Linked DNA regions of Homo sapiens. The protein of the gene in region 1 interacts with the protein of each later gene in a pairwise test. Each region holds a gene or a part of one and is shown in the gene's direction. Other genes may lie near its edges.

Region 1 (3,749 bases):
GATAGAACAAGACTCTGTCTCAAAAAAAAAAAAAAAAATTGCATCACCTAGACAGTTTTTGGACCACATCCTTAGGGTAGGTTAATTAGTAGAAACAAGCCAGGCGTGGTGGTGTGCACCTGTGATCCCAGCTACTCAGGAGGCTGAGGTAGGAGGATCACTCAAGCCCAGGAGTTTTGAATCCAGCCTGGGCAACATAGCGAGACCTGTGTCTCTAAAACCAAATAAAAACTGGTAGAAATGCTAAATCCAAAAGAACCAGGTCTTCCCGTGTTCTCTGTCATAATGCATTTCCATTTTACATGCCATGAGGACAGCATTTAGGCCAGGCACAGTATCCATGTGATTGATACCCAGAGATGACCTTGGTCCCCACGAGGCTGAGAAGCTGTGGAGAACAAGACCAGACCTTCTCACATGGCGATAAGGAGAGATTGGTTTGCCGGGCACAGTGGCTCACGCCTGTAACCCCAGCACTTTGGAAGGCTCAGGCAGAAGGATCACTTGAGCCCAGCAGTTCAAGACTAGCTTGGGCAACATAGCAAGACCCCATCTCTACAAAAAACTTTTTAAAAATTAGCTGGGCATGGTGGTGCATACCTGTAATGCCAGCTACTTGGGAGGCTGAAGCTAGAGGATCTCTTGAGCCTAGGAGGTTGAGGCTGCAGTGAGCCATAATCACCTCACTGCACTCCAGTCTAGGTGATAGTGATACCCTGTCCCTCCCCTCCCCCAACCGCCAAAAAAAAAAGAGAAGAGACAGCTGTGAGCAATGTTGGTGCTATATTAACAACCGCCCCTCACAGTGGCTGGTCAGGTGACTTCACCCACAGGGACAGCCACTGCTACCCCCAGCCACTCTAAAGAGGACCACAATTCCCCGGCCATCATCCCCTGTTATTGTTGTTGATTGAGGGGCTCCTAATGACCAGATGGTCCAACCCTCCTGGGACGTGGAGAGTTGACTTAGGGGAATCAGGTATTTACTTGGAAGCATGGTAGGACCCGCTTCTCCGGCCCATGCCCGTGACCCGTGGCAGTGGGCGGTTGGCCTCATGACCGGAGTCCCCCCACAGAGCCAGCGGGTTGTGCTGCAGCTGAAGGGCCACGTCAGCGAGCTGGAAGCAGATCTGGCCGAGCAGCAGCACCTGCGGCAGCAGGCGGCCGACGACTGTGAATTCCTGCGGGCAGAACTGGACGAGCTCAGGAGGCAGCGGGAGGACACCGAGAAGGCTCAGCGGAGCCTGTCTGAGATAGAAAGTGAGCGGTGGGTGGGGGCGGGGGCGGGCCCCGGGGGCAGGCGCGGGCAGCAGAGCCCAGCTGGACTCAGGATGCGGCACAGAGGCTGGGTGGGGGAGACCCAGACTGTCTTTCTAGAAACAGCTAGGAATGCCAGCTCTTAGCCTCAGTCCAGAGGGCGGGTTTGAGTCCTGCAGGCACAAAGCTGTGTGCGAGGCACCGCTGAGCACAGAGATGGGAAATACAGAAGACAGCACTGAAGTGCTTGCCCTGGGCAGTGGATACTAAGGGAGAAGGAGAGAGGATTGAGGTCCTAACAAAGAAATTGACATAAAAGCTGAGGGCACAGTGGCACATGCCTGTAATCCTAGCACTCTGGGAGGCCAGGATGGAAGGACTGCTTGAGGCCAGGAGTTCAAGACCAACCCGGGCAACATAGCAAGACCCCATCTCTAGAAAAAATAAAAAAGACTAGCCGGGCATGGTGGCACGTGCCTGTAGTCCCAGCTACTCTTGAGGCTGAGACAGGAGGATCGCTTGAGCCCAGGAATTCAAGGCTGCAGTGAGCTGATTGCACCACTGCACTCCGGCCTCTGCAACAGAGAGCCTTGTCTCTAAAAAATTTCAAATAAATTTGTTAAAAAGCTGAAAGCCCCCATAGAATAAATGCCATGTATGTAAGTGCTGAAGAGGCATGAATCCCTGGCTTGATTATTTATTTGTTTTATTTTTTTGAGGTGGAGTCTCACTCTGTCGCCCAGGCTGGAATGCAGTGGTGTGATCTGGGCTCACTGCAACCTCTACCTCCCAGGTTTAAGGGATTGTCCTGCCTCAGCCTCCCGAGTAGCTGGGATTACAGGCACACACCACCATGTCCAGCTGATTTTTGTATTTATAGTAGAGATGGGGTTTCACCATGTTGGTCAGGCTGGTCTTGAACTCCTGACCTCAGGTGATCCACCCACCTTGGCCTCCCAAAGTGCTGGGATTATAGGCATGAGCCACCTCGCTTGGCCCCTGGCTTGATTTTTAACTAGTTGAATTCTTTTTAAAGATGACTTCCTGGAGAAGTTTCTGTAAGTAGGACTTTCAAGGGAGAAAAGCATATATGCATTCCTAAATCAAAGGAAGATCTTTGGCCGGGCACAGTGGCTCATGCCTATAATCCCACTGAGATGGGAGGATCACCTGAGCCCAGGAGTTTGAAACCAGCCTGGAAAACATAGTGAGACCCTGTCTCTACAAAAATTAGCCGGGTGTGGTGGCGTGTGCCCATGAACCCAGCTACTCAGGAGACTGGGGTGGGAGGATGACTTGAGCCCAAGGAGGTCAAGGCTGCAGTGAACAGTGATTGTGCCACTGCACCCCAGCCTGGGTGACAGAGCAAGACTGTCTCAAAACAAAACAAGGAGGACCTTCTAGGGACCCTGGCTCATTGCAAGGAAGGCAAGGGTCCCTGCTAGGTTAGACTCCTCACCTTGGTCCTTTACAATACAGGGAAAGCTCAAGCCAATGAACAGCGATATAGCAAGCTAAAGGAGAAGTACAGCGAGCTGGTTCAGAACCACGCTGACCTGCTGCGGAAGGTAAGACCCTCAGCCCCTGTCACCATCCTGCAGGCCCTGCACCTCTAGGGAGAGAGCGGCTCAGGCCTGTGGCTTCCCCGGGGCCAGCAACCCCTACATTGATCTCTAAGGCATTGCCGTCATCTCGGGAACCACACCTTTTCAGGCTTCCTTGCCTCTGTGTCTTGGGCTGTGTCCTGGGTGCCAATCCCATGTAGGTCACCCACCTTCTTTATTATTTTGTAAATATTTGAGCATCAAGCATCTGAAGGTGATGGCTCTGTTCCGGCTGTGGGTAGGAAAGTGATTCCTGTGTCTGACTCTAGGGCACGCACAGCCTGAGTATGATTGTCCTAGAAGGAGGATGTCCTCTAAGCCTGGGATCTCCTGGTTCAAGACACTGTTCTTCTTTTGCAGAATGCAGAGGTGACCAAACAGGTGTCCATGGCCAGACAAGCCCAGGTAGATTTGGAACGAGAGAAAAAAGAGCTGGAGGATTCGTTGGAGCGCATCAGTGACCAGGGCCAGCGGAAGGTGAGTGGGACGAGGAGCACTCGGGAAATGAGGGAGGGGGCTGTTGAGTTGGTGGCGGGGGCTTTGTGGCCTTCTGCTCCATGGGCAGTTCTGTGGGTCGGTTGGCATCACACAGCAGGGAGCACACCATGGTGGCCACACAGAACAGCAAAACACCGTCACCAGTGCATACACGAAGTAATGGAAGGACCCAAGTTGCCTGGGGTTAATCAACAAAGGCTTTCCAAGGATGAGGCTGGTGGAGAGTTTGAGGAAAGGAAAACACATGGGTGGCAGAGAGAGAGGGATGAGCGTTTTTTTTTGTTTGTTTGTTTTGTTTGTTTGTTTTTTGAGACGGCAGTAATCCCAGGACTTTGGGAGGCTGAGGGGGGTGTGGATCACCAAGTCAGGAGTTCGAGACCAGCCTGGCCA
Region 2 (3,749 bases), on another chromosome or scaffold:
GTGCTGTTCTTGACTTTAGACCTACAGTCATCACTAGGCCCCTGGAAACCCCAGGCTTGTACTAACTTCAGAACAAAACCCATTTTCCCAGCCTGTGGGTCCCTGGATCTGTATTGAGCCCCGTTGAGGAGCCACGGTGCTGGGCTGCTGTTCCAGCCCTGCCACTCCCATCCGGTGTCCGAGAAAGGACCTTCAAGCCTCTGAGCCCATTGTCCCTAAATCAGGGACAGCAAATCTTCTCTCTGCAGGGTGTCTGGCCCCCAGTTGTCTCTGCCCACAGTTCTTCCAATTCAGCCTCCTGCCCAAGCTCATGAAAAGCTGAATTCCGCATGCAGAAGCCCCTGGGAACTGCAGGGTGTTGACACTGGGGTTCACTGACTCCGTTTCCCATTTTGCATAGCGGTGTCCCGCCGCGTGGAGGAACTGTCTCGGCCCAAGAGATTCTACCTGGAATATTACAACAACAACAGGTGGGGGAAGGAGGGCTGGGTGGCTACTCAGAAGGCAGAGTTTGGCAGAAATGCCTTATTCTCGCCTGACAGGATGCTGTGTGGGAAAGGGTCCAGGTCCTAGCCCTAGACAGCTGGTGTTCAGACGGGGCTGGCCTGCTTCCCAGCCCACATCCCCAGCAGGCTGCTTCCCAGTCCACATCCCCAGCAGGCTGCTTGGCCCCGTGCAACTGCATTGCCAGCTGTGGAATGGTGGTGGAGGGCACCCGTGAACGGGGATTTGCACAGCGCCTGACACAGTGCGTGCTCAGATGTTATCACCATTGTGACTGTATTTTGTTTACTCAAAAAAGGTGGAAATTCTAAGACACATTAGTATTTTATGTACAAAATTCTTTCTTACCACTTACAGCCCCTGTGCTTGTTAAAAGTGATCTTTAGTTATTTAGACACAACATATAATTACCCATCTTTTATGCAGCGTATGAAGGAAAGCACAGCTGAAGTAGACAGCGGAAGTGTGTCCAACTGTTTTGAACCACTTCTGACACAGACGTTGATGTGGGTGTCGCACACACTGTCCTCACGCCTCTGTGCACTTTTTAACGCCAAATCATACTGTGACCTGAAGACAATTTAAACTGTAATTAAACTTAACTCCTGTAGAAGCAGCAGTGCAGATCACGTGAACAGCACACACAGATGCAGCCAGATGTAGCCAGGACACTTCCGCCATCTGGCTGGCAGCACTCGTAAGCTGCATCCTAACCTCAGACCTGTTCAATGTGGAGACCTTGCCTTAGAATCAATGAAATGCGGCTTTATTTCCGAGCAGAGGCATAGCTGAGACCTGATTTCAGAAGGCACAGCCCCGGGAGCTCAGCTGTCCTTCGCTTTCCCCAGCTTTGCAACCTCAGGACAGACACTTTCATCCCTTGGGTCCAAGTGCTCACGCCAGGCTCTTGATGATGGGGGTGTGTAGAGAAGGCCTGGGAGGAGCTGCCGTCCCAGAAGGGAATGGAGAAGGCCTGGACCTGAGGGTGGACGTTGCACATTGAGCAGAGACAACCCTGGGAGATGGTAGCTCTGTACTTGAGAACTCTTAGAAATTCTTTACGAATCCCTGTTTGGAGACGCTTTCAAAACTCACCACTCTCCCAGGCTCTCTTAACCCCAGAAACAGAGGAGGAGCTGGGAAAGACAGACAGACACATATGGAGGAGCTGGGAAAGACAGACAGACACATACACACACACACACACACACACACACACACACACACCCCCACCCCCGGCCGAGCTGCTGGTCTAAAATGGGGACCTCCCCCAGGACGACTCCTGTCTGGCCCATTCCTCGGTCCTCCCTGGAATACAGAGCGTCGAGTCGCCTGAAGGAACTGGCCGCCCCGAAGATTCGTGATAACTTCTGGAGCATGCCCATGTCTGAGGTGGGTGCCCCGTGCCCCCCGCGACTCACCCCCGCCAGGCGGGCTGGGACCCGGCAGAGAGTGAAAGAGGCTTTGCGTTTGGGAGTCAGGGGAGGAGGAGAAGCTGCACAGGGCGGCTGCCTTTGTCTGGGAGCAGCTTTCTTTTGATCTCTCACTGTCTTCAGAGCCGCCCAGGGGTCATCCTTCCCTGCGCTTCAGTCCGGGTGGATCCCAAAGCTTCCAGCTCACACTCAGGAATTAGAACAGTCTTATCTCAGGTGTTCAGAAAGCGCTCATCTCTCGCCCCAGCTCAGGCCGGACTCCTGGCCACCGGCAACCACTGACCTCGCTCTACGCCCTGTACCTTTTGCTTTTCCGAAAGTCTGAACCCCGCAGCCTGCGGGCTTGACCCGGCTTCTGCCGCCCCCCGCCCTGCATCTGAGACTCTCGCGTGCGTCGGTAGTTTATTCCTTGTCGTCGCCGGTTCAATTCCAGAATTTGCCGATCCAGGCACCCACTGAAGGGTATTTGGGTGGCTTCCAGTTTAGGACTGTTACGATAAAACTGATGTGAATACGCCGGGCGCGGTGGCTCACGCCTGTCATCCCAGCACTTTGGAAGGCTGAGGCGGGTGGATCACGAGGTCAGCAGATCGAGACCATCCTGGCTAACATGGTGAAACCCTGTCTCTACTAAAAATACAAAAAAAAAAAAAAATTAGCCGGGGGTGGTGGCGGGCGCCTGTAGTCCCAACTACTCCGGAGGCTGAGGCAGGAGAATCGCTTGAACCCGGGAGGCGGAGCTTGCAGTGAGCCGAGATCGCGCCACTGCCCTCCAGCCTGGGCGACAGAGCGAGACTCCGCCTCAAAAAAAAAAAACAAAACTGTGAATATCTGTATACAGCTTTTTGTGGAGGCGTAAGTTTCCATATCTCCAGGGTAATACCCAGAATTGGAATTTCTCAGTTACTGGGTATATGTAACTTTTAAAAAACTGACCAATGGTTGTCCAAAGTGACGGCGCCGTCTTGCATTCTCTGGGCCGGGATTGAGCTCAGGCTCTCCCCATCCTGGCCGCCGTCTTGCATTCTCTGTGTGGGGATTGCGCTCAGGCGCTCCCCATCCTGGCCACCATCTTGCATTGTCTGGGCCGGGAGTGGGAGCCCAGGTGCGCCGTATCCTGGCCATCTTGCATTCTTTGGGTGGGAAGTGGGAGCTCAGGCTGTCCCTGTTGTCAGGCCTCTGAGCCCAAGCCAAGCCGTCGCATCCCCTGTGACTTGCACGTATACATCCAGATGGCCTGAAGTAACTGAAGATCCACAAAAGAAGTAAAAATAGCCTTAACTGATGATATTCCACTATTGTGATTTGTTTTTGCCCCACCCTAAGTGATCAAGGTACTTTGTAATGTCCCCCACCCTTAAGAAGGTTCTTTGCGAGATCCACCCCTGCCCGCAAAACATTGCTCTTAACTTCACCACCTATCCCAAAACCTATAAGAACAATTGATAATCCACCACCCTTTGCTGACTCTCTTTTCGGACTCAGCCCGCCTGCACCAGGCGATTAAAAGCTTTTATTGCTCACACAAAGCCTGTTTAGGCTTCTTCACACGGATGTGCCTGAAACCCATCCTGGCCACCATCTTGCATTCTCCGGGTGGGGAGAGGGAGCTCAGGCTCTTCCCCATCTTGGCCACCGTCTTGCATTCTCCAAGCAGGGAATGAACTGAGGCGATCCCCTTCCTGGTTGCCATCTTGCATTCTCTGGGAGGGGAGTGAGCTCTGGTGTGCCCCGTCGTGGCCTCCATCTTGCATTCTCCGGGCGGGGAGTGGAAGCTCAGGCCTGCCTCATCCTGGCCGCCGTCTTGCATTC

The links. Proteins that work in one complex are often made in the same cells at the same time.
Region 2: the proteins of HIP1 (region 1) and SPMAP2 interact in binary tests that used the Homo sapiens proteins (3 or more experiments, as listed by UniProt).

Annotation. Positions count from the first base shown.
Region 1 is NC_000007.14:75,557,243-75,560,991, reverse strand, and holds part of HIP1 (huntingtin-interacting protein 1), read left to right. Parts: intron 1-1,076; coding exon 1,077-1,260; intron 1,261-2,736; coding exon 2,737-2,825; intron 2,826-3,221; coding exon 3,222-3,338; intron 3,339-3,749. UniProt on the Homo sapiens protein: Plays a role in clathrin-mediated endocytosis and trafficking. Involved in regulating AMPA receptor trafficking in the central nervous system in an NMDA-dependent manner. Regulates presynaptic nerve terminal activity.
Region 2 is NC_000019.10:369,352-373,100, reverse strand, and holds part of SPMAP2 (sperm microtubule associated protein 2), read left to right. Parts: intron 1-400; coding exon 401-470; intron 471-930; coding exon of another isoform or gene 931-937; exon of another isoform or gene 938-1,729; intron 1,730-1,778; coding exon 1,779-1,896; intron 1,897-3,749. UniProt on the Homo sapiens protein: May be involved (but not essential) in spermatogenesis.